Linked DNA regions of Homo sapiens: regions 1 and 3 are each linked to region 2. The links come from fine-mapping of genetic effects on gene expression. A gene starts in region 2. Each other region holds a variant in brackets. All regions are shown on one strand. Distances are between the middles of the regions.

The links.
Region 1: its variant is fine-mapped to the expression of GPAT4 in whole blood (TOPMed, PIP above 0.99).
Region 3: its variant is fine-mapped to the expression of GPAT4 in whole blood (INTERVAL, PIP above 0.99).

The regions. Positions count from the first base shown.
Region 1 is chr8:41,516,044-41,526,172 of GRCh38, reverse strand. No RefSeq gene overlaps it. Among named protein-coding and RNA genes, the nearest start is that of GINS4, 8.2 kb to the left of the region's middle. The variant C/T (reference allele first, on the strand shown) is at 6,293.
Region 2 is chr8:41,573,055-41,583,183 of GRCh38, reverse strand. GPAT4 (glycerol-3-phosphate acyltransferase 4) reads right to left here and starts at 4,984. Exons shown (of 13, transcript NM_178819.4): 1 at 4,906-4,984. GPAT4-AS1 (GPAT4 and GINS4 antisense RNA 1) reads left to right here and starts at 4,816. Exons shown (of 3, transcript NR_125824.1): 1 at 4,816-4,878. RefSeq lists silencers at 4,478-4,617, 4,638-5,257, 9,808-10,014.
Region 3 is chr8:41,609,901-41,620,029 of GRCh38, reverse strand. It overlaps GPAT4 (glycerol-3-phosphate acyltransferase 4), which reads right to left. Exons shown (of 13, transcript NM_178819.4): 4 at 10,075-10,129; 5 at 9,220-9,294; 6 at 8,038-8,127; 7 at 7,757-7,850; 8 at 7,070-7,185; 9 at 5,589-5,644; 10 at 4,982-5,067; 11 at 1,218-1,346; 12 at 1,053-1,132. Among named protein-coding and RNA genes, the nearest start is that of NKX6-3, 36 kb to the left of the region's middle. The variant AT/T (reference allele first, on the strand shown) is at 4,580.

The DNA of each region.
Region 1 (10,129 bases), 57 kb after region 2:
AGCCTCCTGAGTAGCTGGGATTATAGGCATGTGCCACCGCGCTTGGCTAATTTTTGTATTTTTAGTAGAGACGGGGTTTCACCATGTTGGCCAGGCTGATCTTGAACTCTTGACCTCAAGTGATCTGCCCGCCTCGGCCTCCCAAAGTGCTAGGATTACAGGAGGGGGCCACCACACCTGGCCATCAGTCACACCACCTTTTTTTTTTTTTTTTTTTTTTTTTTTTTTTGTGAGATGGAGTCTCACTCTATCACCCAGGCTGAAGTGCAATGGTGTGATCGCAGCTCACTGCAACCTCTGCCTTCCAGGTTCAAACGATTCTCCCACCTCAGCCTCCCGAGTAGCTGGGACTACAGGTGCACGCCATCGCGCCTGGCTAATTTTTGTATTTTAGTAGAGATGGGGTTTTGCTATGGTTGCCAGGCTAGTCTCGAACTCCTGACCTCAAGTGATCCACCTGTCTCAGCCTCCCAAATTGCTGGGATTACAGGAGTGATCCAACCGCGCCTGGCTAATCACACCACCTTTTACACAAAATTAATATGTGTCTGCCTGAAGACAGAGGGACAGACCAAAAAATTGAGGGACCCGTTTCACTTCTAAGATCTTTGATTACAACTAATATTCATTAGACAAAAACACTTTTAGAGGAAATGAGTTGGCAGAAAAATATTTCTGCTGTGTAAAGAAGGGTTATTAAAAGAAATGCCAAAGCAACACACAAACTTTTGGTGTTGATCGTTTGGCACTGTAAAGTTCAGGAAGGTGGGAGAAAAGAGGTCTTCAATTACATTATATAGAATGAAGAGAAAAATCAGGAACACCTGGTTGATGTGCACCCACTGTCAAGAAGTGTTTTAGAAATAATAAGATAGCCATATAAATGGAATGCAATTCATTAAAATGATCACAGATAAAAGGTGATTACATAGATTATTATATTAGGAGGATGAAGTTTGTGGATAGAATTTGCAGGCAAGCTTAGATGATTTAAATTGCAAGATGAACATACTAACATGAATTCAGACAAGTAAAACATGAAGTTACCTCGAAAGAGAAGGAAAAAGCTACTGCCCAAAGTGGAAGAGGAAGATACAGAAAATAGGATCCTATACAACTGAAGAAAGTGACAAGCCACAGCAATATTCAGATATTCTCAGTGAAGATGTTAATGGAAATTATAGACACAGCAAATAGAAACAGCCAAAATATTTGTGGACAGCCATACGTTATTATTATTATTACTATTTTTTGAGACAGAGTCTCACTCTGTCGCCCAGGCTAGAGTACAGTGGCGTGATCTCGGTTCACTGCCAGCTCCGCCTCCTGGGTTTACGTCATTCTCCTGCCTCAGCCTCCCGAGTAGCTGGGACTACAGGCGCCTGCCACCACGCCCGATAATTTTTTGTATTTTTAGTAGAGACGGGGTTTCACCATGTTAGCCAGGATGGTCTGGATCTCCTGACCTTGTGATCCGCTCGCCTCGGCCTCCCAAAGTGCTGGGATTACAGGCGTGAGCCACTGCACCTGGCCCAGTGGTACATTATTTTTATTTTTTGAGACAGAGTCTCGCTCTGTTGCCCAGGCTGGAGTGCAGTGGCATGATCTTGGTTCACTGCAACCTCTGCCTCCCAGGTTCAAGCGATTCTCTTGCCTTGGCCTCCAGAGTAGCTGAGATTACAGGCATGTGCCTCCATGCCCGGCTAATTTTTGTGTTTTTAGTAGAGATGGGGTTTCCCCATGTTGGACAGGCTGGTCTTGAACTCCTGACCTCAGGTGATCCGCCCACCTCAGTCTTCCAAAGTGCTAGGATTATAGGCATTGCACCTGGCCAAAAAGATACATTATTAATGAGAACAAATTTAATGTTTTAATCACCAAGGAAAAACAACAGTAAATACTGTATATCTATACAGAATTGTGAGCTTTCTGGAGAAAGATGCTTTCAGAATACAAGTAATGGCATTATTATTGTTCTCATATCAGTGCCCTTGCTTGTTTGGTCAGCAGCTGTTTCTCAGGGGTCCCTTTTTCTGAATTCCATCACAATCTTGGTCTCACTGCCCTGGAAACCAAAGAATTAAGATTTGGGAGTGTTTTAGTTAAGTTGAGTTTAACTCCCGGTTTTTCTGAATGCATGAAGATTGGCACTACAGACAGCCATGTAAGAGGACAGCTTGCATTTTTTTTTTTTTTTGAGACGGAGTCTTGCTCTGTTGCCAGGCTGGAGTGCAGTGGCATGATCTCGGCTCACTGCAATCTCCGCCTCCTGGGTTCAAGCGATTCTCGTGCCTCAGCCTCCCGAGTAGCTGGGGCTACAGGGGTGTGCCACCATGCCTGGCTAATTTTTGTATTTTTAGTAGAGACAGGGTTTCACCATGTTGGCCAGGATGGTCTCGATCTCCTGACATGATGATCCACCCGCCTTGGGCTCCCAAAGAGCTTTAAGGAAGGCAGAAAAGTGTGCTTACGCTGTTTTCTCTTAGGCTCATAAGGAAAGCTATTGGCTGGTGAACTTATACGTATTTTTCTGGCCAATGATAACACCCAATGCCAGCTGCATGGCCAGGATGCTGGAGAACTCAGGAAGCCGGGCAAGGCTTGGGTCTCCCTTACAAATGGAAAATCTGGGCAATTTATGATATTCCTAATTCCTTTGCTCTCCTCAGACCCTAGGTCCTCTGAAACTCTGTAAGGAGATATAAGAACTATCTGCCCCTTTGCTTGTTGTAGAATATACAATAATCATAAAAAATTTTTAAAAATTAAATATATCTTATGAAACACTGTGGCCAACATAGCATGTAGCTGGTTGAGTAAGATTATTTTCCTAATGCTTTTCTGAATATGTCAAGCAAAGAGAAAGGTGACCTTTCCATAAAGAAATTCATGTGCCTTTATATCATGGGCATCTTTGATGAGAAGCTTATGTGCCCAAGTGTTGGGCAAGTCTTATTTATTTATTTATTTATTTGTGATGGAGCCTCACTCTGTTGCCCATGTTGGACTGCAGTGGCATGATCTCGGCTCACTGCAACCTCTGTCGCCCGGGTTCAAGTGATTCTCCTGCCTCAGCCTCCTGAGTAGCTGGGATTACAGGTGCCTGCCACTGCGCCCCGCTAACTTGTATATTTTTAGTAGAGACGGGGTTTCTTGGTCAGGCTGGACTTGAACTCCTGACCTTGTGATCCACCTGCCTCAGCCTCCTAAAGTGCTGGGATTACAGGCATGAGCCACTGTGCCCAGCCTAAGGCTTCATATTTATTAAAGTCTATATAGTTTAGCTGAGAGATCTTGAGGGACTTGTCCTAAGGTCTAAATAAAAGCCAGGCCAAATTCAATCTCTCTTTCTCTCTGGCTGGAGTGCAGTGGGACAGTCATGGCTCACTGCAGCCTCAAACTCCTGGGCTCAAGCAATCCTCCCACCTTGGCCTCCCAAGTAGCTGGGACCACAGGTGTGTACCACCGTGCCTGGCTAATTTTTTTTTTTTTTTTTGTGGAGACGGGGGTCTCACTATGTTGCCCAGGCTGGTCTTGAAGTCCTGGCCTCAAGCGATCCTCCTGCCTCAGCCTCCTAAAGTGTTTGGGGTTACAGACATGAACCTCTGCACCCGGCCCAAACTCAGTATTTCTAAATGCTTGCACCTTAGGGCAATGCGTGCTCTCTCTCTCTCTCTTTTCCTATAGTGATGGGAAAAGGTCTGATTATAGTCAAAGTAAAGGGTAAAAGGTAGCCTTGTTCAAGAATGTGCCCCGTATCAAAATTTCATTTATTGTCTTGAATTTTAATGTCTTTCTTTTCTTTGTGTTAATGAATCATAGACATGGGCACCATTTTGATAACTTTTTAAATTAATTTATTTTATTTTTCGAGATAAGGTCTTGCTCTGTCACTCAGGCTGGAGGGCAGTGGTGTGATCTTGGCTCACTGCAGCCTCCACCTCTTGGGTTCAAGCGATTCTTGTGTCTCAGCCTCCCCTATAGCTGGGATTACAGGTGTGTGCCACCATGCCTGGGTAATTTTTGTATTTTTAGTAGAGACAGAGTTTTGCCATGTTGGCCAGGTTGGTCTTGAACTCCTGACACCAAGTGATCTGCTCCCCTCAGCCTCCAAAAGTGCTGGGATTACAGGCATGAACCACTGTACCCGGCCCGTTTTGTGAAATTTAGGCTAACAGTTATTGAAATAATTGTTTTCTGTGGGAGAACTCTTAGAATAAAATTCATTCATCTATATATGTTGACCCTTGAACAACTTGGATTTGAACCGCTGGGATTCACTTATGTTGGGTTTTTTTTCAAGTAAGTTACACCAGTGTGCTTGCCTCCTTTTCCACCTCCTCCACCTCATCTGCCTCTGCCACCCATGAGACAGCAAGACCAACCCCTCCTTCCTTCTTTTTACAATTTTTATTTATTTTTTATTAGTTTTTGTACAGATGAGGTCTCCCTAGGTTGCCCACGTTGGTCTCAGACTCCTGGTCTCAAGCAATCCTCCCGCCCAGGCCCTGCAAATTGCTGGGATTACAAGCGTGAGCCACCGCGCTCGGCCCCCTCATTCCTTCTTATGAAGACCTTTATGATGCTCCACTTCCACTTCATGAATAGTAAATATATTTTCTCTACCTTAGATTCTTAGTAACATACTCATTTCTCTAGCTTACTTTATTGTAAGAATACAGTATGTAACACATATAACGTTAAAATGTGTTAATTGACTGTTTATGCTATGGGTAAGGGTTCCAGTCAACAGTAGGCTATTAGTAGTTAAGTTTTTGGGGAGTCAAAATTTGTACGTGGCTGGGTGCAGTGGCCCACACCTGTAATTCCAGCACTTTGGGAGGCTGAGGCAGGCGGATCACTTGAGGTCAGGAGTTTCAGACCAGCCTGGCCAACATGGTGAAACCCTGTCACTACTAAAAATACAAAAATTAGCTGGGTGTGGTGGCACGTACTTGTAATCCCAGCTACTCAGGAGGCTGAGGTGGGAGGATCGCTTGAACCCGGGAGGCAGAGGTCGCAATGAGTCGTGCCACTGCACTTTAACCTGGGATACAGGGGGAGACTCCACCTCAAGAAAAAGAAAAAAACAAAAGTTGTACGAAGCTGGGCATGGTGGCTCACACCTGTAATCCTGGTGCTTTGGGAGGCCAACGTAGGAGGATTGCTTGAAACCAGGAGTTCGAGACTAGCCTGTGCAACATAGTAAGACCCTGTCTCTACAAAAACGAAAAGATTGCTTGAGCCCAGAAGTTCAAGGCTACAGTGAGCTATGATTGTGCCACTGCACTCCAGCTTGGGCAACAGAGCGAGACCCTGTCTCTTAAAAAAAAATGCAGATTTTTGACTGTGCAGGAGTTCAGTGCCTCTAACATCTGAGTTGTTCAAGACTCAACTATATATAAGTCATGGTTTTCTTGAGCTGATAAAATACAGTAAGATTCATTTAAAATTATTCCTAAATTCTGGCCAGGCATGGTAGTTGATGCCTGTAATCCCAGTACTTTGGGAAGCCTAGGCGAGCAGATCAATCGAGGCCAGGAGTTTGAGACCAGCCTGGCCAACATGGTGAAACCCTATCTCTACTAAAAATACAAAAATTAGCTGAACGTGGTGGTGCACGCCTGTAGTCCCAGCTACTCGGGAGGCTGAGGCATGAAAATTGCTTGAACTTGGGAGGTGGAGGTTGCAGCGAGCTGAGATCGCACCATTGCACTCCAGCCTGGGTGACAGAGTGAGAATCTTGTCTCAAAAAAAAAAAAAAAATTAAATAAATAAAATTATTCCTAAGTTCCAAGCTTTTTAATTAGAATTACAAAGATGGAATTATAATTACCATTGTTGTCATTATTTTCCCTCTACATGTAGTGTCTATGAATTATACATCTCTTAAGATGTCAGTACTTGAAATCATAAGGAGTAAGAGGCCTAGGCTGGGTGCAGTGGCTCACGCCTGTAATCCCAGCACTTTGGGAGGCTGAGGCAGGCAGATCACCTGAAGTCAGGAGTTTGAGACCAGCCTGGCCAACATGGTGAAACCCTATCTCTACTGAAAATACAAAAATTAGCTGGTTGCGGTAGCGGGCACCTGAAGTCCCAGCTACTCGGGAGGCTGAGTCAGGAGAATTGCTTGAACCTGGGAGGTGGAGATTGCAGTGAGCCGAGATGGCACCATTGCACTCCAGTATGGGCAACAAAGCAAGACTGTCTCAAACAAAAAAAAAAAGAGGCCTAACAGGAGAAAATTGTGAAATTTTAAATTTGTGACATCTTAAAACCTTCTGGGTTACGA[C/T]AGGTTTCTTTACTGAAACACTTCCAGGTTTCTCACTGGTAAAAGTTAATATCTTAGCTGAGTTCGACATTCACCCTCTATTTATCAGAAGGCTAGAGAACAGGATGATTATGTTCCATGCCACATACCATTATCTGAGTATTTTACTACTGACTTAGCTCAGAACAGATAGTGAAATAATTCCACCTTTAGAGTACCCCAAAGTGATAGAAATTATTAGATTTTTCAGTTTATTTCAGTTCAGTTATGAAAATACTTTCAACTGAAAATACTGAAGTCTGGTCATGCAATTGTGTTAATTGTTGATATTTTTTGAAATAAGAACCAGAAGCCTTGGGTCATTTGGTCTATTATTGCTGGTCTTGCTGTGAACAGCTGTGATGCTATGAGTTGCTAACTCATTGGAATCAATAAGATTTGGATGTGACCCATGGAGTTGTAAGGGCTGCTGTTACCTTTGACTTTTCTCTGTGAAGCAAGATCATGCTTTCCTAGTCATCCTCTCTGCTTTGTATTAGACATGTTTACTTCCAGTGAAAATTCAGCTTGACCCTGAACTTTACCCTTGGCTATAACCTGCTTCTAGGCTGGAAGTTTAATTCATGTATTTTAGAGTTCTACTCGTATACTTGTAAGCATGAAAAAGCCACTTTTTTCATATTTTCCACCTTTTTGGGGGGGTTATAATTAGAACTGGCAGAGCTCAGAGGCTAGTCTCTGTTGATGACCAATGGAACCAATCAGCTGAACAGGCCCGGAGGCTTTGAGGAAATTGAAGGGATCCCATGGGGTGGTGGTTATTGCATCCAAATTATCAAAACCATTCATAATACTGAAGATGTTAACTGGTGTGCCTGATATTTAGGATATGGTAATCCATATTGACAAGTACAAGTTGTTGGTTCTTTTTAGGCATTTGAAAACGTATGAATGATAAGAAGCCATATAACACGACAAACTCAATCTAAGTCTGTTGTGCTCCTGTTTCTGACCTCATTCCTGTTCCTTACTCTCTAGATGTAACCAGTATCTTCAACTTGGTGCTTATTGTTCCTATGAATAGTTTTTTGTTTTGTTTTGTTTTGTTTTTAATAGAGACAGGGTCTCGTTCTGTCACCAGGCCAGAGTGCAACCACAGCCCACTGTAGCCTCGACCTCCTGGGCTTAAGTGATCCTCCCGCTTCACTGTCCTGAGTAGCTGGGACTACAGGCTAATTTGTTTTTTTGTATTTTGGGGGGTTTTTAGAGACAGAGGCTTGCCCTGTCGCCCAGGCTGGAGTGCAATGGTGGGATCTCAGCTCACTGCAAGCTCCACCTCCCGGGTTCAAACAATTCTCCTGCCTCAGCCTCCCAAGTAGCTGGGACTACAGGCGCCCGCCACCACGCCCAGCTAATTTTTGTATTTTTAGTGGAGACGGGGTTTCGCCATGTTGGCCAGGCTGGTCTCGAACTCCTGACCTCAAGTGATCTGCCTGCCTTGGCCTCCCAAAGTGCTGGGATTACAGGCATGAGCCACTGCGCCCGGCTGCTAATTTGTTTTTTGTCTCACTATGTTGCCCAGGTTGGTCTCAAACTCCTGGCCTCACCGATCCTCCTACCTCGGCCTCCCAAGGTGCTGGGATTCCAGATGTGAGCCACTGTGCCTGGCCTGTTCCCAGAAATGTTTTTAAATTTGACCAACTGTGTACCCCAAAATAATATGGTAATATGAGCTGTGTGTGTGTGTAGTCATGGCATCAATTAGCATAACTCAGGAAATGTGCTTATAAAACAAGTTTATTTTTTCTCTACATTTATTTGTTGGGGATAGTTCTTCCCCTGTCACTGGACAAAAACTGATTACTCTTGTCACTCTGCTTAAAAAAAAAAAGAGTTCCATGATCTCCTTAAGTACCATTCAGTAATTAAAATATATAATCAAAACTCCCTCCCTCCCTCCTGGGAAACGGTGCCACACTGTGGGCTTAGCATGAGTCTCCATCGGCCAGTTGGGCTGCCAGCAGTAGCAGTGGCCAGGTCAGCCATGACGGAAGGAGGCCCATGTTGTGGAGCCCCTTGCATGCTTCATCCTTGCTGTGTCCACCTTTTCACATGGTCCCACTGAGCCAGCACCAGGAAGGCTGGGAAAGAGGCTGACTGATATCAGAGGACTTTCCACTTCCTTTCCTGCAATGAGAACCTCCCTGCAGGGATGCTATGTGGTGGGCATACACAACATATGAATTTCTTCACCTTCTATGCCCACTCCTAGGGTGCATCCACATAGGGTTTCTCTCCTCTTCCTCATCAGCCTCCAGTTGTATCTTCCAGATCCCTAAGCAGCTGTCTAAATAGTTAGCCACTTCTGTGATGCAGTGTTCCACGCTCAGGTCCCCTGCTGATCCCTCCCTTGCCTGAACCCTACCAGAAACGACAGGGCAAGGGAGCCAGGTTGTTGCAGCCTGCTCAGATTCGTCTTCTTAGAACATAAGGAGCACAGCGAAGGAAAAAAGGTATGAGAGACAAAAGGGGACGATCCAGGACACCATGCATTCTGAGGTCTGTGTGCAGGTCTCTCTTCTGTTCCATCATCCGTGAGCTATTCTTGTACCAATGAGACACATTTCAGCTACTACAACTTCATGTCTTGCTAGATACAGGGCATGTCTCTTCACTTTTCTAAAACCAGCATGTCAAGTTCCATTGAAAACCTTGTTGGGACCTTGGTTGCCAGGAAAATATATTTTTTTTAGAGATGGAGTCTCACTCTGTCGCCCAGGCTGGAGTGCAGTGGCATGATCTCGGCTCACTGCAACCTCCGCCTTCCCGGGTTCAAGCAATTCTCCTGCCTCCGCCTCTTGAGTAGCTGGGATTACAGGCGCCCGCCACCACGCCCAGCTAATTTTTTGTTTGTATTTTTAGTAGAGACGGGGTTTCACCATGTTGGCCAGTCTGGTCTCAAACTCCTGACCTTGTGATCCACCCGCCTCGGCCTCCCAAAGTGCTGGGATTACAGGCATGAGCCACCGTGCCCGGCCAAGCTTATCTGTTAAACGAAATGATCAGATTGAATTTTACCCTCTGAGCCTAAATGCTGGCTTTGGTCTCAGAGGCATTTTTACTTGCTGTCTTAACTGCTGCATGGAGTTAATATACAGCTGTGTATTACTCTGGCAGCACACATTTCCTTTATGGAAAACTTGTGGTCACTTCAAAATCTACACAGTACTTGGGAATAGAAAACAACTATTCCCTTTCTATTCCTAGGGAATAGAAAACAACTTGTCACAAGCAAATTTCCTCAGGGAGCCCCTATCAGGGATCTGATAATTTTACATTTATAGCTCTTGCTGGCAGGGGCTGGTGAAGTTTCTGTATTCAAGATGGCTGCTGTGGGGTTTCTGGTTACTTAAAAGGTGATTTTTCCTATCCTGAAATAGTCCCTCCATGTCATTAAATATTAAGGGAAGATCTTTTCTGCAATATTAAAAATCCCCCAAAACATGCTGTTTGGCCTTTCCTAATTGTGTGTGTGTGTGTTGTTGTTGTTGTTGTTTTTGAGACAGGATCTCATTCTGTCACCCAGGCTGGAGTGCAGTGGCATGATCTCAGCTCACTGCAGCCTCGACCTCTCAGGCTTAAGTGATCCTCCCACCTCAGCCCTGCAAGTAGCTGGGACCACAGGCGTGGGCCACCATGCCCAACTAATTTTTGTGTTTTTTTGTAGAGACAAGGTTTTGCTGTTGCCCAGGCTGGTCTCAACTTCTGGGCTCAAGTAATCTGCCCACCTTGGCCCCTCAAAGTGCTGGGATGATAGGTGTGAGCCCAGCCCCTACTTTTTTTTTGTTTTTGTTTTTG
Region 2 (10,129 bases):
GTGCGATCTCTGCTCACTGCATCCTTTGCCTCCAGGTTCAAGCAATTCTCGTGCCTCAGCCTCCCTCATACCTGGGATTACAGGCACAGGCCACCACAGCCGGCTAGTTTTTTTTGTATTTTTAGTGGAGAAGGGGTTTCATCATGTTGGCCAGGCTGATTTCAAACTCCTGACCTCAAGTGATCTACCCACTTTGGCCTCCCAAAGTGCTAGGGTTACAGGCATGAGCCACCACGTCAGGCCAATTTCTTGTATATTTTAATTTGAAATGTTAAGTAGATTTGAAATGTTCCCAACACAAAGAAATGATGTATGTTTCAGGTGCTGGATATCCTAAATACTCTGATTTTATCATTACACATTCTATCCATGTGGGCAAATATTACTGTACACTATAAATACGTAAAATTACTGTTTGTCAATTTCTTAAAAATTGATACATAATTTTACATATGTATGGAGCACAATGTGATGTTTTGAGATACACCCACACACACACACACACACACTCTCTCTCTCTCCCTCCCCTTGTGGAATGATTAAATCAACCTTATCTATTTCTTTGTGCTTTTTAAAAAAGCATTATTATAAAATTTAAAATTGTGTATATAGCATATATAATATTTCTATGGGACAGCACTGATCAAAAATTTTTAAAGGAGACTCAAAATAATGTATCTTCAACTGGCAAAGAAAGAAAGAAAGATGTGTGTGTGTGTGTGTGTGTGTGTGTGTGTGTATACTTTCCCACCCTATTTCTCCAAGGTGAAGAAAATGGTACAGCAGAAAGGGCTTAGATCTGGAACCAGGACTGCCTTTAGGTTCTAGGTGCAACTCTTACTGTCTAGTCTATGTGTCCCTGAATACATCATTCAGCTTCGGCCACGTGCAGTGTCTCACGCCTGTAATCCCAGCACTTTGGGAGGCTGAGGTGGGTGGATCACCTGAGGTCAGGAGTTCGAGACCAGCCTGGCCAACATGGTGAAATCCCATCTCTACTAAAAATACAAAAATTAACTGGGCGTGGTGGCGCATGCCTGTAATCCCAGCTACTTGGGAGATAGGGAAATCATTTGAGCTCAGGAGGTGGAGGGTTGCAGAGAGCCGAGATCTCGCCACCGCACTCAGGCCTGGGCGACAGAGGAAGACTCAGTCTCCAAAAAAAAAAAAAAAAAAAAAAAAAAAAAAAATCATTGAACTTCCCTTGATTTAAGCTTCCTGATCATTTTTTTTTTTTAATTCAAACAAGTCGGCCGGGTGCGATGGCTCACGCCTGTAATCCCAGCACTTTGGGAGGCCGAGGCGGGGGGATCACGAGGTCAGGAGATCGAGACCATCCTGGCTAACACGGTGAAACCCTGTCTCTACTAAAAAATACAAAAAAAAAATTAGCCGGGCGTGGTGGCAGGCGCCTGTAATCCCAGCTACTGAGGAGGCTAAGGCAGGAGAATGGTGTGAACCCGGGAGGCGGAGCTTGCAGTGAGCCGAGATTGCGCCACTGCACTCCAGCCTGGGCGACAGAGCAAGACTCTGTCTCAAAAAAAAAAAAAAAAAAAAAGTCAACAAAGGCCTGGCATGGTGGCTCATGTCTGTAATTCCGACCCTTTGGGAGGCTGAGGCGGGAGGACCGTTTGAGCCAGGGAGGCTGAGGGTGCAGTGAGCCTTGATCATGCCACTGCACTCCAGCCTGAGCCACAGATCAAGACCATCTCTATAAAATAAATAAATAAAAGTCAAGTGCAAATGTATTACGCTCCTGTTTTACAAAGCATTTTTCTATTATTGCAGATCTTCGGTTTACAAATTAACTGGAGGTGGGATCCAAACATACTAAGATTGTACAAGGCAAAATGAAGAGAGCCCTAGATGAGACTCTGTGTTTGTGTGGCATGTGTACGTGTCTGCATGTGTTTTAAAGGTGAAAAAGTACATTAAAGGACTCAGGGGAAACTCTAAGCACTTGGAAGACTCCTTCTAACTCTAAAATTCTATTCTCTTAAAAAGCCTTAATCATAGTGTACGCTATTACATGGTTTAGTGATACATGGAACGGATGATATTCCGTCAAGTTCTCTCCATGAGCACAATGACACAGTAGGAAGTAAAAGACACGTCATAATGAGGTTCTACTTTACCCAAACAAACAATTCTGCAGTACAGTTCATGTTTAACCAGGGCCAAATCATCTCCAGATAGCTTAGAGAGTTTTGTTTTGTTTTTAATAAAAGCTAACTTGTGGTGACAAGCACACACAAGAAAAGTGGGTTTTTCTTTAGCAGAAACCACTTAGCAAGTTAGGCTAGCCTCTGAAGAGCCTAGCCACAACACTCCTCACACCAAACACAAAATAGACACACAACAGTTGCCTCCTCCTCCCTCCTCTATCTTTAGGGGTAATGATTTACCATGACACTCAAATGCTGTTATTGCAGTGGTACTTCCATAAACTGGACATGCATAACAACTATTGTATTTAGGTCACAAACTCACAAAAGAAAAGTCCATCCTGAAAGTAAGTTGACAACTATGTCATCATATAAATAACCTAAACTTCCATGAAAACTCAAAGACCCCTAACATGAGGACTTGCTTGTTCCCAGCATTCCTTGGAGAGGCAGAATATCCCCATTTTAAGGGTAGGAAAATTGAGGAATAAGTACTGAATTTACCAGTCTTTGTTGAGATAAGGAAATGTAATAGCATAAATTTTGCTAGGAAATGCATATTATGGTTTTGTAAGAAAGTCTAACCCATGGTCCAAGAAGCCCAGATTCTTACCTATTAATGGCATGAAAGGCTTTCTGAGATGATGCTATTGTTCTCTCAGAAAAAGAAGAGTAACACTCTTAAGTCATTCTGGTTTCCCTTAGTAACTCTTTCTTAAATAGCCGTGAATGTTATCTACACCGTTTATAGCTTGTTCTTCTTCTCAAACTGGTATACCACTTCTAAGGTCAGAATTTTATCATGTTCCCTAAAAACTATTATCAGAACTTCTCGTCTGCCCCAAATTGATTTTTAAGAAATAATTTAAGGCATTTCTTAAAATTCTGAAATTTGGTGGAAAAGCTCATGTTCGCCTATCCAAATCCTTCATGAATGTAAGCGTCTTCATCCACAGCCTTCCTACACCATTTCTCTTTCCTGAAGGCAAGTAGTATGGGTCAGTGGAACCGCAGCCTCGAGGCAGAGGCGAGATTTCAGCCTCTTAAGACCTGCAGCTCTGGACAAGTCACTGAACTTCTCTGGACCTCCAAGGGCTCAGAAAAAAATGAAAACATTGAACAGGACGTTCCGAATGTTCTCATCCAGATCTGAAACACTTTTTTTCTTTTCTTTTTTTTTTTGACACGAGTCTCGCTCTGTCGCCCAGGCTGGAGTGCAGCGGCGCAATCTTGGCTCACTGCAACCTCTGCCTCCTGGGTTCAAGCGATTCTCCGGCCTCAGCCTCCCGAGTAGCTGGGAATACAAGTACTTGCCACCACGTCCGGCTAATTTTTGTATTTTTAGTATATGCAGGGTTTCACCATGTTGGCCAGGCTGGTCTTGAACTCCTGACTTTAGGTGATCCGCCCGCCTCGGCCTCCCAAAGTGCTGGGATTACCGGCGTGAGTCACCACGCCCGGCCATACTTTTTCTTTTAACCTGTTCTATCATGTTAAGATACCTTTTGCTGTGCTCTTTCTTCAACTCTACTGTGTTTCTTAGCTGAAGACCTCATGAGTAGGCTGTGTTCCAAAACAAAAAGCACCTTATGACTTGGTATGGTGGTTTTCATTATGGAACTGAAGCTACTTTTGACAGACTCATCTTGCATCAAGTTCTCCCTGAGACATACGGGAGGGGAAATGGGTGGGGTGTGTATGGCACAGGAATAGCCACAGTTAAGTGGCTGAGGAGGCCAGAACAAGTACATGCTGGTTCCCTATTCCATCTATTTCCCTGTGTCTGAAATTCTCCAAAATACAAAGTTAAAAAAGAAAAGAAAAGCACATCTCTTTCAAAGAGAGAAGTATATTTGATTGGCATTATTACAGGATTTTGTCTGGAGACTTTGGTATGGTATAACTGCTCTTCACACCATTTCCCTTGGATTGAGATAGAATCTACAAGACATGAAACTAAGGAGAGCTCCTCAAAGTTCAGCCAAAATTAAGGAAAATGAACCAAAAACAAAATTCCTCAAATGACCTCAAGGTTATCCATGAGAAGATCCATGGTAATACTTGGCAGAGGATGGAACTTATTTCCATCGTGCTACACCGTATGTCTCCTATAAGCTATTTTCTGCAACTTCTGAACAGCTAAACTTCAGCCCTCTGTGACATGGAAAGCGAGGAAATAAACAAGCCCCACTGGGAGAAGGATGCCTCAGAGGGTGCTGAAATAAAAAAGGAAAGGCAAGGGATTTCAGGAGTTAAGAAATCCTAAAGAAAAATGGGAGCATGCATTTGGAGAAGGAGAGGGTAAAGACATGCATCTTACGGCAGCCAGAGAACACAGGAAGGGGAATGACAGGGGAAGGCGCTTCCTGGTGCTCCAACGCCCAGCAGCCCTCGCCACCCACATCCCCGGACTCCCGGGGCGGGAGGGCTGCGCACACCTGGGACTTGGGGGAGGCGAGGGGCTCCGAGGAGCCGGGCTCGGAGAGCAGGCGAGCGGAGAGGCGGGCGGCCGGGGTTCGGGGCGGGCGCGGACCGTTCCATCCCGGACGGGGGGCACCCGCTCCACCCGCCGGGGATCCCCGGGGCGCGGCGATGGTGCCTCCTGACGCCGGCGCAGCGTCGCCGGGGCGTCCCAGACCGCAGGCCCCGCGCGGCCGCCCAAGCCCGGCTCCCACGTCCCGCTCTCGGCTCCCCGGAGGTCGGAGACTTTGAGGTAAGGGGCCAGCTCCCTCCTACTCACCGACCGCGAGGCTAGGCAGCTCCAAATCCCGCGGCGACCGCTCCCTCCCGCCCTTGCCGCCGCCGCGGGCCCAAGCTGCGTCAGGACGTGCGCGCGCCCGCCTTTGTCTGCGCCGCCCAACGTGACCCTGCGCCCACCGCCCCGCACGCTCCCGTCGGGCGCGCGCGGGCCGGCAGGGCGGGGGCCTAGGGAGAGGCGGGTGCCGCGTGGACCGGTCGCGGGTTGGGCGACCCGCGGAGTCGCCCTCTGGCGGACTAGGGGGCACTGCCGGGGGCGGGGCGGGGCAGGAGCAGGAGAGGCCGGGCCCTGGCTGTCCCTCCGCTGGCGCGTCCCTCTCAGAAAGCGGAGCGCTTCCCTGCGTTAGGACCCGATACTGGCTCCCTCCCCGGAGGTTCGCTTGTGTGTTCCGGAGAGGGTGAAATCAGGCTGGCACCGCGGGAAGAGGCTAGAGTCACTAAATCACCTTGTCCTCTTGAGGCTGCTGTCCGTATGCAGCGACATTCTGCCCGTTAGAGGACTCAGCTCAGGGCCTGGTACGCTCAAGATCTGTTAGCTACCAGCACCATCACCACGACCACCGTCATCACCAGCAGTATCCCTCAGCCTCGTCTACCTTGCTCGTCAAGCAGGGTGCTCCAGGAGTGGGTGTAGGCCACTTTCGCCCTGCCTGGCAGATGCAACTTTCCAACTTCCACCTCCACTTGGACCTGCTCTCTCTACTCAAGTCTAGCTGGTGGCTGCTGGAGTTTGCGTGTGTGTTTCTTACTATATCTTCTGACTTCGGACGCCTAACCCAAGCTTATTATCTCCCCTAAAATGGGACCTCCTTAAAATATATATTACCTTTCTTTTTCCTGTTCTTAAAAGACAGTTTGCCTTTAGTGCCAAGCCCTCTCCGCCGGTTTACGCTGTACACGGCTGTCAGATTGTCATTCCGTGCTAAATGCATAATCTGATAATGAAATCTTTAAAGTCCACATTCTTAGACCTCAAAATCTCTGTAAGAATAAAGGGCAGAGTATGGTAGTTCACGCCAGTAATCCCAGCGTTTTGGGAGGCCAAAGCAGGAGGATCGCTTGAGGCCAGGAGTTTGAGACTAGCCGGGGCAACGTAACGAGACCCCCACTTCTACAAAAATTTTGAAAATTAAAAAAAAATGGTGGGGGGAGCGGGGCGCGGGTAGCTCACGCCTGTAATCCCAGCACTTTGGGAGGCAGAGGCGGACAGATCACTTAAGGCCAGGAGTTTGAGACCAGCCTGGCCAACATGGTGAAACCCCGTCTCTACTAAAAATACAAAATTTAGCCGGGGGTGATGGCACGCACCTGTAATCCCAGCTACTCGGGAGGCTGAGACAGGAGAATTGCATGAACCCAGGAGGCAGATGTTGCAGTGAACTGAGATTGTGGCACTATACTCCAGCCTGTGTGACAGAGCGAGACCCAAACTCAAAAAAAAAAAAAAAAAAAAGAATAACCACTTAGCTCCAAAACACTGGACTACTTATCTCCACCAAATATAACTAAATGTTACCCATTTGGAACTGATCACGTATTTATTAACTCAATCACTTATCCATTCATTGAGCCCTTGTTACTCGCCCAGCTTTTTTGGGGATCCCAATTCAAGATTGAGTAATGCATGGCCACGTCTAATCGTCAACGACATTAAATTCCATAAGAGAAGAAACCACCGGGCGCGGTGGCTCACCCCTGTAATCCCAGCACTTTGGGAGGCTGAGGCGGGGGAATCACGAGGTCAGGCATTCGAGACCAGCCTGACCAACATGGTGAAACCCCGTCTCTCCGTCTCTACTAAAAATACAAAAATTAGCCGGGCGTGGTGGTGCGCACCTGTAATCCCAGCTATTCGGGAGGCTGAGGCAGGAGACTTGCTTGAACCCAGGAGGCGGAGGTTGCAGTGAGTTGAGATCGCACCACTACACTCCAGCCTGGGCGACAGAGGGAGACTCCATCTCAGAAAAAAAAAAAAAAAAGAAGAAGAAACCAGACATCATACATTTTTGTGTTGTGTTCTCCACAGTGCTAGGGATAGGGATTTAAAGTGGCCACCAGGATCTCAACTGCTCTTTGGAGTCCTTCGTCTGGTCTCCTTTTCTGCCCCCAGAACCAGTCTTGGAAGTAGCCCACTCATCTGCTGTACTCTCTTTGTGTTCTCATGGTTATATTTTCTCACAATTCTTACCATCTACTAGTTCTTTGTACATAATATTGAAATCTTAAAATATTTCACACATATTAGAGGCTCAAGAGAAAATGGTGTTCTTTGCCCAAGCAAATAGTAGGCTCAATTGTTGGGTATTAACACTGATACACACACACACCTTGTGAGTGTGCACATTCACTGGCACATTCTCTAAACTTCTCAAGTGCAGGAAGGCAATCAAACTTCCCTCTGAGTGGGAAGCCAACATGAACTAGGTAAATATAGTTCCTGTAGGCACCAAAACTTTTATCACATTCATTTCTAGGTACAAGGAATGTAAATGGGCAGATGAAACAAGCAAGTCATGCTTGAAATGCTTGACACAAAGCAGACTTATCTTTAGAGAAGGCCTCCTGCCCATAGCATGACCGAGCTATAGCCAACACTGAACTTCTTGTCGCTGTGAATATGGGCTGTCTTTAGATTATTGTTGGCAGTATTTTCACATTCTAGAATGAAAAAACTCATACTGCAGAAATTATAGGAGTAATTTTTAAAACCTGATGAAGGGTAGTCCTTTAGAAGAAAGAGATCACAAGATTTAGATCCTACCCCATACTAACTTTGAATTCATTCATAGTATGAGGGCATTTCCCCAAAATGTGTGCTCTGTACATGGTGCACAGTGCTGTGAGCCTGGGAAGAACCCCTTTCCCCAGGAGAGTACCATGCCTGTGCCGTACAACTTATCTTCCTTCCAAAGTCAACTTTAACATCTACAAAGAGTTTGCCATTCATTAAGAGGTGAATCCCTAACTGTCGACTGCACAACCAGCAACATCAATGCTCATTTCCAAGCACCAAAATAAAAAGCCAAAGAAAGTAAAATAAATATTATTTTTAAAAAATGTTTTCAATTGTGGTAGAATACGTAGAACCTAAAATTTATTATACCATCTTAATCAGTTCTTTTTTTTTTTTTTTTGAGATGGAGTCTCACTCTCTTGCCCAGGCTGGAGTACAGTGGCACAATCTCAGCTCACTGCAACCTCCGCCTCCAGGTCCAAGCGATCCTCTCACCTCAGTCTCCCGAGTAGCCAGGATTACAGGCATGCACCACCACATCTGGCTAATTTTTTTGGTGGAGGGGAGAGGGGACGGAGTCTCACTCTGTGGCCCAGGTTGGACTGCAGTGGTGAGATCTCGCCTCACTGCAACCACTGCCTCCCAGTTCAAGTGATTCTTCTGCCTCAGCCTCCCAGGTAGCTGGGACTACAGGTGCGCGCCATCATGCCCAGATAATTTTTGCATTTTTAGTAGAGATGGGTTTTCACCATATTGACCAGGCTGCTCTTGAACTCCTGACCTTAGGTGATCTACCCACCTTGGCCTCCCAAAGTGCTGGGATTACTGACATGACCCACTGGGCCTGGCCCATCTTAATCATTTCTAAGTGTACAGTTCAGTGGTGTTAAATATATTTTCATTATTATGAATCTTCAGAAATTTCCATCAAGGCTGGGGATGGTATCTAATGCCTGTAATTCCAGTTATTTGGGAGGCTGAGGCAAGTGGATTGCTCGAGCCCAGGAGTTTGAGACCAAGCCTGGGAAACATGGGGGAACCCAATCTCTAAAAAAAAAAAAAAAAAAAAAAAATTGACATTCTATGCCCATTAAAAAAAAATTTCATTTCTCTTCTCTCTACCCCCAGTAACAACCATTCTACCATTCTACGTTCTGCTAATGGGAGTTCAAGTAGTCTGCCTCATATAAATAGTCGGATTTTGTCTTTTTGTGACTGGCTTATTTCACTTAGCACAGTGTCCTCCAGATTCATCCATGTTGTAGCATGTGTCAGAGTTCCCTTTTTTTTAGGGCTAATATTCCATTGTATGTATGTATGTTTATTTTGAGACGGAGTTTTTGCTCTTGTTTCCCAGGCTTGAGTGCAATGGCATGATCTTGGCTCACTGCAACCTCCGCCTCCTGGGTTCAAGAGATTCTCCTGCCTCAGCCTCCCAAATAGCTGGGATTACAGGCATGCGCCACCATGCCTGGCTAATTTTTTTTTTTAATTTTATTTTTAGTAGAGATGGAGTTTCACCATGTTGGTCAGGCTGGTCTCGAACTCCTGACCTCAAGTTATCCACCCACTTCAGCCTCCCAAAGTGCCGGAATTACAGGCATGAGCCACTGCGCCTGGCCCCATTGTATTTGTATACCACATTTTCTTTATCTATTTGTCGTTGACGGACATTTGGGATTGATCCTGCTTTCAATTATTTTGTGTATCTACCCTGAAGTGGGATTGCCCAATCGTATGGTAATTCTACTCTCAATTTTTTTAAGTCTGGAGTTGGGAGGAGAGCTTCAGCTAGTGATATAAATTTGAGAGTCAGGCCGGGCATCGTGGCTTATGCCTGTAATTCCAACACTTTGGGAAGCCGAGGCAGGCAGATCGCTTGAACCCAGGAGTTCAAGACCAGCCTGAGCAATATGGTGAAACCCTCTCTCTAAAAAAAAAAAAAAAAAAATTAGCCAGCCATGGTGGCAGGAGCCTGTAGTCTCAGCTACTTGGGAGTCTGAGGTGGGAGGATCACTTGAGTCCAGGAGGTCGAGGATGCAGTGAGTGAGATTGCTTCACTGCATTCCAGCCTGGACTACTGGAGTGAAACCATGTCTCAAAAAAAAAAAAAAAAAAAAAAAAGGCCGGGCGCGGTGACTCATGCCTGTAATCCCAGCACTTTGGGAGGCCGAGGCAGGCGGATCACGAGGTCAGGAGACCAAGACCATCCTGGCTAACACGGTGAAACCCCGTCTCTACTAAAAATACAAAAAATTAGCCAGGCGTGGTAGCAGGCACCTGTAGTCCCAGCTACTCAGGAGGCTGAGGCAGGAGAATGGCGTGAACCCAGGAGGTGGAGCTTGCAGTGAGCCGAGATTGCGCCACTGCACTCCAGCCTGGGCAACAGAGCGAGACTCCGTCTCAAAAAAAAAAAAAAAAAAAGTTAAAAATAAATAAATTTGAGAGTCATCAGAATACGAATGGTACATAT
Region 3 (10,129 bases), 37 kb before region 2:
AATCTAGCTCCAGTGCTAATGTTATGACTTTGGAAAAAAGTGATTTGAGTCTCAGTTTCTCATCTGCAAAATGGGAACACTGTTTACAGCGCTGCGGCTACTGTGAGGGCGAAAGAGACGATCACACAGGGCCCCAGCAGCTCAGTGACTGGCACACAGTGAGTGCACAATCCACACTAGCATTTTTTAAAAGGCCATCATCTGAGAGCCAATCTATTCCCTGAGACTCTACAGTTGGGTTTACAATGTGAATTTCTACCCTTTCTTTTCTCATAGATAATGCCCATCTAAGTCAAATGCTCTCCCCAGTTGACCCTTGGCTCTTAAACCTAAATGCCCCACAGAGTGGAAAACTTTCTCTGAACCAGCATTGACCCCTGTCAGTCTCCTACTGTTTGGGATAAAACTACCTCATACTCTAGTATAAGGGCTGGTCAAATGCAGCCCACGGGCCACATCCAGCTGATACCTGTTTTTGTAAATAAAGTTTTATTGGAACACAGCCATGCTCATTGGTTTATAGACTGTCTGTTTTCACACTACAATGGCAGAGATCATCAGTAGCTGCAACAGACACCATATGGCCTGCAAATCCTAAAATATTTACTGACTACAGAAAAAGTATGTCAATCCTGCTCTATTAGGTAACAAGCTGAATACACCAAACACAACCTTTACCTTTCTAAGAATGGTTCAATTTTGCCAGATACACTGGGACCTGGGAAAGTCCTCCTTCCTTCTTGAAGTTTTCAGATCAGTAGCAGGTCATGCCCACCCAGAGATGGGCACTGTCCAGGTGTCCTGGAAGACTGGTTCAAACCCCAGAAAGGTACACAGAATCAACTGCCTCAGTCCAGGCATCCCTGATCCAGGTTCCCCAAGGTCAAGGAAGCACAGGGCACTTCTGGGTTGGAATTCGGGGAGAGTCAAACTGCTCTCTCTAGAGCTGACAAGTTTAATTCTCCACACCACGGGGAATGACATGTAAGTGAAGTCAATGACACAGCATCTGCTGCAGAAACTCAGCTGAAAAGGCCTGGCTCTAAACTTACCACAGCAGGTCCACAAGTCCTCCCTGCCTGGCAATGGCAGATTTCACCCTATTCGCAAACTGGACAGCATCTTCATCTGCCTGTAAGAAAGAACAAATGAGACCACTCAGCCCCGGCTTGACGTTACACAGAGCAGGCGCAGACCTGCCTGGGGCAGGCACTCACCTCTCTAGTCATGGGAGGCAGGTACCACACGCTGCAGACAATGGCCCAGCTGGTCATCATTCGCAGCAGGTACGTCACCATCCCGTATTTGCTGCTGTTCCAGAAGGCATCGCCAAATTGAGGGTCATACTGAAAACAATGGAAAGCTGGAGGTAAGACATGAGTAGTTCTCACAACGTTTGCGAGTCCACAGTGACTGCTGTGAGTGACTCCACTGGGCCGTGCTGGTACTGGGGTGCTGCTCCCTGACCTTGCATGAGTACTGTGGAAGCCCCTCTCCATGTGGCCGGTTCTGACTGTGAGCAACACTGATCTCCCCCGAGGAACCCGGCCTCTGCTACAGATCAGTAAGGAAGGCTCCCCTGACAGCCTGCCTCAAGCAAATGTCTTCCCTCCTTGATTAGTTTCAGGTCTTACTCATAGGTATATAAAGTTTTCAAACATCTCCAAAACCAGGGAGAAAAGGATCATGCACTCCCATGTACCCATTCCCTGATTCAACCACCGCCAACGTTTCCCACTTGCTCCACCTGTCCCCTCTCAGCATCCTGTCATTCATCTAGTGTACCTCCCCCAAATAAAGATATTTTCTTACACAAACACCAACTTTTAAATATGATTTCTGGTGCCCAGACCAGGGAGGAAACTATTAGAAAGCTTCTACATTTACACTTCCAACAAAGTCAGTCGTCTGTTCAGGAGGCGGCTCTGTGCTCACGCTGACAGCCTTGGGAGGTCTCAACCACACAGGCCTGCATCTACCATGAAGCAGGTATCAGATCCTTTCATTATTTCATTGGCATTTTGCAGAAAATGTAGCTGCAGCTGTGACCCACATTCTCACCAAACAAGTAGCTGGAGGGGCAGGTGAGCAGGGTAGGTAAGCTCTAGAGGAAGTTGCGCAAGGAGCAACAGGAGGACCTGGGTGCTTGAGAATGCCTGGACAAAGTGCCTGGTGCTGCCAGCGAATGTCTGAAGGGATCCTGTACACAAGGCAGTAGGCTGACCTTGTGCAAACACCCAGGACCAGAGTGGAAAAATAAAGGAGCCAGAATTTCAAGAGTTATGCCACACGGCCATGCTGCCAACAACATCAAAAATGCCCTTTCCCTGGGAAAGCCTGAGAAGGAGCCCAGGGCAGGGTCCTGCATGTGGGATGGGCTAGGGTTGAACTCTATGATCTTATAGGCCTTTCCAGCCTAAGTTTTATGATCCACAGTATAAATACTGGACAATTTTGACAAGACTGTGGCCCTAACTACAAAAATGAAGATAACTTAGGCTTAATTATAGAAGCTAAGAAAATTAGATTTAACTACAGAAGACTTAATGTGTTATTATAATACCAACAGAAACAAGGGAAAATAATAAGTTTTTAAAACTAAGCAATGTGTATGATCAGAAAGTATTTTTTTAATTTTAATTTTATATATAATAATATACATTTTGAGACAAGAGTCTCACACTGTCGCCCAGGCTGGAGTGCTGTGGCGCTATCTCGGCTCACTGCAAGCTCCACCTCCCAGGTTCACGCCATTCTCCTGCCCCAGCCTCCCGAGTAGCTGGGGCTGTAGGCACCTGCCACTACGCCCGGCTAATTTTTTTGTATTTTTAGTAGAGACGGGGTTTCACCATATTGGCCAGGCTTGCCTCGAACTCCTGGCCTCAAGTGATCCACCGGCCTCAGCCTCCCAAAGTGCTGGGATTACAGGCGTGAACCACTGCATCTGGTCATGTCGTTGTATTTTATAAAGCCTGATATGGACAGAAATTCTGATGTCACCAGAGTGTGAGAACCCTTTGTTTCGGGCTGATTCTCTATTCCACACTGGGCAGTGTGTGTGGACAGAGAAAAAAGGCAGAAGCTCAACACAGCGACACACTCCTCACATCAGGTCATGGCTGGATTCCGGTGGAAATATAAGAAGAGCCTTGAAATCGCTAAGGTTATCCAAGTTTGATTACCAATAAAGAGTTCACAAAAACCAGTAATCTGTAGACCAGATGTTCTTAGCCATACATGGGCTCTACTCTGTGGACTAAATGGAAATGTATCTAAAATTTATAAGCATTTTACTTTGGAGAGGAGCGGAAACTCCTCAGGGTTCGTGTTCTGACAGCAGCTAAGAGCCACTGCTTCAGAACTGTGGCCGCCACAGTGTGGTCCCAACTGGCACCATCAATGCCACCCAGAACATGTTAGAATGGAAAATCAGAAGGCCCAGCGGGGTGGCTCAGGCCTATAATCCCAGCACTTTGAGAGGCCAAGGCAGGCGGATCACTTGAGTCCAGGAGTTCTAGATCAGTCTGAGCAACGCGGGGAAACTCCGTCTCTACAAAAATTAAAAAATTAGCCAGGTGTGGTGGTGTGCACCTGTAATCCCAGCTACTTGGGAGGCTGAGACACAAGAATCACCTAAATGTGGGAGGTCAAGGTTGCATGAGTCATGATTGTGCCACTGCACTCCAGCCTGGGTGACAGACTGAGACCCTGCCTCAAAAGAAAAAGAATAGGAAGTTCAGAAACCCTGGGTGTGGGGCCCAGCAATCTGCATTTAAACAATCCCTGCAGGCAATGCTGATGCAGCCTAAGTTCAAGAGCTGCTGTTCTGGAGGCAGCAGTAAGGGCTTCCATCCAGCATCACGGTCACACTGCAAAGCACCTGTCCTCGTTTTGCCAGAATGCAGGATGCAGATGCCAGTCCCCACTCCCACACCCAAGGCAGACTCTGCTAACAGACTATGTTCCTCTTTCCTGCTGTTTCCAGACACAGCATCCTCAGGCTCTGGTGAGTCCTAGCCTGTCAATCAGAGTCCCCTGCAGGCAATATTCATCTGCCATCCCTGGCCTGGTCCTCTGCCTAAATGATAAACAGTGAGTGGCTGGTGAGCATCGGCCTCACCAGGAGCAACACCTCTCCAGTGGCACTGGCAAGGTGAAAAGAAAGTCAGAACCAACTCTACAGAATGCTCTGCAGACAACCCAGTCCCCTACAAAAGAAATTCTAAGTGTGAGCCTGACTCATATCTGCTCACCATTTTATCGAGCTCTCAGGCTGCAGCCTAAATACTTTAACCACACTGAGGATGGCCTGTGTTTTGTAGGTGTCATGATGTGAGGCCTGGTGGATGTGAAGAGGGTAAGAGCGGGGAGGAACAATGTGCAGATGACTAGCTAATCACATCCTATAGCTCTGGGTGTCTGAAGGGTTAGAGGAGCAGTTCCTAAAGGGTCGACGTAGACTAGATAAACTCCCAGGGTCCATCTCATTGTTAGGAGCTGTTGTAGGTCTAAAAGATGACACAACTAAAAGCAGTGAAGCTGTTTCTCCCACTGGGCTGGAGTAATGACCCCCCCCCCA[AT/T]CCTCATGGCTCCCCCAAAATGCAAAAATCCAGCTTAAAACCACACCACTGTGCCCTGCAATCAGCCAGCTTTCCATGTGGAGGGGCCTACATTCCAGCTAGGTTTATGAAGCAAGGTAATAAGTGAAGGGCTTGCCATTTCCCGAATGGTGGCGGCAGCAGCATGCAGGCGGGAATCTGGCTGTCCCCCATTCCACACTCCCCAGGCCCTTCTAAGGGGTGCTGAGCACTCACCATCCTCCTCCGGCAGCACTTGACCCACGTCAACCCAGCCCCACGCCACTCTGCTGAGGGCATCGACCACAGACTGGTGACCCCAGCTCCTTCCTCTACCTCCTCCTGCTGCACCCCACTCACAGCAGCTCCAGTAATGACAGTGTGTACCATCGGAGGTCTTATACCTTGATAGCAACAGGGTAAACTGTGGCTCCAATTTCAAAACTTCCCTTTTTGAACATCATCACCGATGTATTATTGATGCAGGTTCCTAAAATGCAGGAGACAATAAAATGCTATTTCTGTTGGCCCTTTACCCCAGATATTAGGCGTTTCTTAAAGACTAAGTATAATAGTCAAAATTCTTCTAATGGTTCCTCCAGTAAGATACATCTGTCATCTCCCTAACTTAAAAACAAACACTTAACAGAGACAGGCAAGATGGTGCCTCCGATTCTCTTTCTACAGGACCACTTTCCCTGATTCATACACACAGCCTAGATAAAGCAGAGACGCGCAGTGGCCTTAGGAGGACACCATGAGCTCTGTGAGGAGCTGAAACATTACAGAAGAAATTCCTGCATTTGGGGAGTTCACACTATGGCATTCTTAGTTCAAATTCTGAACTTACCTGAGTTTTTAGTCCTACTTCCAACCTAAAGGGGACCTAACATTATTCAGTGAAAACAGATAACCCCAACAAGGGCTGAGGGCCTTGGTTCCCAGGAAACATCAGCATCACACTCCTGCACTCCCCACAGAAGCCCTTCGTGGCAACCAACCCCTTCTTACCTTCTGGGAAGATGAGGATAGGCAGCTTGCTTTTATCTTGCACATGTTCAGTCAGTCTTTCAAAGAAGAAAATAAAATAAAGGGTCAGACAACCTTATACACATCGTCAAAATATGTTTATAAATAACCTATTTATTTGTGACACTAGTTTCGATTATAAAAAGTTAACAAGCATAACTGTATCCTTTTAAACCCATAATCTAATGCTCATCAAGAAAAAATGTATATGGATAGAGAAAAATCAGGTTACCATTTAATTCACAGAACTGTTCAATTCTGTGCGAACATCGGAGCACCAATGATGCCACTCAACCTGGGGGCCACCTGAAAGAGACACCTGCCACAAGGCCTGGGCATGGCCCCCTCAATAAACCTGTGTCACTAGACTATGTAACAGTTGTGAGGCTGGGCCCAGCCCTGCTGGCTCGATGCTCTGTCCCTGAGATGTAGCAAAGGGAGTTAGGGGAGAGTTCATCTGTCTCTATGGAAGATAATCTCAACTGTCTTTTCTTATGTGTTATTTTTTGAGACAGGGTCTCCCTGTGTTGCCCAGGCTGGAATGCGGTGGTGCAATCATAGCTCACTGAAGTCTCACCCTCCCTGGCTCAAGCGATCCTCCCACGTCAGCCTCCCAAGTAGCTGGGACTACAGAAGCGTACCACCACGCTCAGCTAATTTTTAAATTTTTTGTAGAGATGGGGGTCTTCCTATGTTGCCCAGGCTGGTCTCGAACTCCCGGGCTCTCAAAGCACTGGGATTACAGGCCTGAGCCACCATGTGTGGCTTGGTCTCAACTGTCTTGATGTCTCTGTCTGCTGCAAATCTCTTTGCATTACTTACAGCAGATTCACCTTCTTAAAGTTTGAAAACAGGGCAGTACTTTGTTCCACTGCCTTAGGTTTCTTTTTATTTGTGATAAATGAATTCATTTTGAGGTTTCAAATAGCAGTAAAAATTCGTATTTTGTTTATTATGATGGGTACAATGAATTAAAAAAAGGTTAAGAAACATTATTAACTTGGTAAATAATACTAGGGTTTCTATACTTTTTTTTTTAAGACAGAGTCTCATTCTATCGCCCAGGCTGGAATGCAATGGCGCGATCTCAGCTCACTGCAACCTCTGTCACCCTGGTTCAAACTATTCTCCTGCCTCAGTCTCCCTAGTAGCTGGGATTACAGATGCCCGTCAATAATTTTTGCATTTTTAGTATTTTGTATTTTCACCATGTTGGTCAGGCTAGTCTCAAACTCCTGACCTCAAGTGATCCGCCCACCTCGGCCTCCCAAACTGCTGGGATTACAGGCATGAGCCACCACACCCGGCCACTTTTAAAATTTCATGTTTTAGGAAAAAATTATTATGAAAGCAGTATAGGCTTATGATAGAAGGCACGTAACTGCACTGTGGAGGGATAACTACCCTGAAACCTTTTCAGCATTCTAACTGGCCAAGCAGAACAGCAGTGTTCTGTCCATTACCTCTTAGCCACCAGGTGGCGATCCTTCACTTCCGAGCGCTCAAACCAGACGTGTGGGCAGGCCTTCACCATGGCTCTCTGAATCACACCCATGAGTCCCCCGTGCACTTGACCCACCTAAGCGCAGGCACAGGACTCATTAGTAGTGAAGCCATCTTCACACGAATCTCCCCACTCTAGGAAGAACCACATCTCACAAAATAAGCAGTCCAACTTCTCACTTCTAACGCTTGCCGGCTGAAGGTTGCTCACTGCCAAGAAACCACTACCAAGACTCCCCAAATCTTAAACTTCTCCTTTTAATCAGTAATACTAGAAATAGGTAATTAAAAACATAACTGAAACCCCTAAGACAAAATACTAAAATACTAAAGTAGCGCAATTCCCTGTGTAAAACTGCCCCTCCCTGGGCAGATTCTCAGATGCCCTGGACACAGTCCTTGCCAGCAACTCCCTCTGCCCCTGCTGGTCTGCCTGACTGCCCTTGGCATCCTCTCCAGCCACACTCACCAATCACTCTGCCCAGGGTATCTCCTATCACAGTCCCACAGAGCCCCCACAGTGACAGTAAGGTGGGGGCCTGGCCCACGCATAAATGTGTTTATGTGAAGGGTCCAGGAGCCTCCTAGCCCTGACCACTCTAAAGCAGGAAGTCTTGCCTCAAGAACGCACCGGAAAGAGCTCTTACCATGGCATAATAGCCATCGCTGGCCAAGATGATCACATCGATCGGTGAGGTATGATTGGCCACACAGATGCCACCATTTCTTGGTCTGTTTTCCCTGGGTTTAAAATGTATGCAAAGCAACCAAAATTAGTGTGAAACAGTTCATGTAACACACCTCTCACCTCACATGCTTCATCTGCTCTAACTAAAAGCTCAGAAGTGTCTTCCCATTTGGCTAAGTATAGGTGGGTGGTGTTTCCTGCAGCGCCATCTCCCTTCCTATCAATACAAAGCGCTCTCACCTGTCATGGTAGGTGATGATGGCTGTCAGCGCTCGCACGCAGATCCGGTAACACATTAAGTGAACATGTTTACTCATGAACTCCTTAAACCTGCAATAACAGGACAAGGATTCTGGGTTTTATTTTACATACAGGAAGACAGAAAGAGTTACTGACTTCAACAGCTCAGCAGTCCTTTATAACAGCAAAGTGCTTGTATAGACATCAGCACCTACAGGAAAGTCCTGTGATGCATGAGCACCTTTATGTTCACACATGAGGAGAGAAAGAGGGGACAGGGAGACTCACTTACATCCACCCAAATCAGTGGGTGGAGAATTCACAGCCTAGAATCCGGCATCCGCAGACCACAGGCGGGCTGAACTCCGTTCCCCCAGTCAACATCCAGAGGCAGGTCCAAGGCCAGAGGCCAACCTCCTCACCCGCCCAGGCAGAAGAAAGGTTTCTAAACCCCAGAACTTCCCAAAGGGAGCAAAATATTCTTCACACAAACAGACAAAACCTCCCTACATTTCAAACCATTTTAAAAACTGTATTGTCTCATCACTTTATCCACACAGTCAAATGCTCAAAACTAAACAACAAGCTGTAAAATCTGTTAACATCTGAGTCTCGGACTCTACATGTCTGTGGCTCCTCCCTTTTGTCTTCAAAATGGGAAGAATGTGAGGGCTGAAGGACAAAAAGAACAGTCATAGATCAAAATTTAAAAAAAGTAAAGACTTTACTGCTGATGCCGTTGTTGCCATTGGGTTGTTATTATTATTTGAGATGGAGTCTCGCTCTGTTGCCTAGGCTGGAGTGCAGTGGTGTGATGTTGGCTCACTGCAACCTCTGCCCCCTGGATTCAAGGATTCTCCTGCCTCAGCTTCCCAAGTAGCTGGGATTACAGGCACCCGCCACCGTGCCTGGCTAACTTTTGTATTTTTAGTAGAGACAGGTTTCGCCATGCTGGCCAGGCTGGTCTCAAACTCCTGACCTCAGGTGATCCACCCACCTCAGCCTCCCAAAGTGCTGGGATTACAGGCATGAGCCACCGTGCCTGGCCACCACTGGGTTATTTAATCCATCTAAGATTCCATGGCTTTGGTTGTGTCCAAAGAAGTGTCCTTGCCTTCGATATCTGAGCACCATTCCCAGAACTAACTGTCCTTCAGGCATGGACTGCCACACTCTACTCACCTCCCATTTGGCAAGTATCCCACCACAGTTGTGCCCACCACCAGAAGGCTAATCCCTGTGAAAGCCAGTGCTATCCTGTAAGAAGAAGAAAAGTTAGAGCACAGCCAGCAAATCATTCTACCAAGTACAGAACTGAAGGTGTGAAAATCAAAGGGGGCATCACAAAAACCACCCCCAAGACCTGCTCACCTGGGACCTGGACCAGAGTTCACCTAGAAATGTAAGCAGGCCTATCAGAACCAGAGATCCTTTTGATTCCAGCTGACAGTGAGCCATGGGTCTGGCTCTCAGCTGCCTGCATCTCCTGAGGCCTCAGGCAGCTGGAAGGCTGGAAAACCCTAAGCTGGCCATTCTGCCACAGGGCTGCTCCCTGCTGCCCTCCCCTTCCCTTTGGCTGGAAACCCCGGTGGAAGCACAGCTTCCCTCTGAAGCAACAGGAGGTGGAGCTTGAAGGTATTAGCATCTGGCAAGGCACACTCAGAGCAGCACATGGTGCAGAGAAGCTGAAAGATCAATACTGCCCCTGTACCTGAGAGGCAAGCTTCAGGAAAGAATGAGCCATGTCCAGGAAGGAGTGGCAGAAAGCACACAATGTTCCCTGTCCCTGTGTTTGCTGTCATCTAGAGAAGCAAGCTGTCTTTAAGAAATCCAACTATTTCTGTCTGATATGCAGAGAATCCAAGGGCCTCTAAAGGAGAATCACCAGTGTATCCCTCCAAAGAGTCACGTGGCCTGGCTAACGACAGTCATTCCCTCCTCCTTTCTAAAACGGGAATACACAGCAGAGCAGGCAGGTGGGCTGTGCACCACGTGGGGTGGCAGCAGCGAGCCCCACTCCCGCAGGCCCTGCCTCACCTGAGCGGCAGCAGAAAGCAGTACCGAATCAGCACTCCTAACCCCCACAGGACCG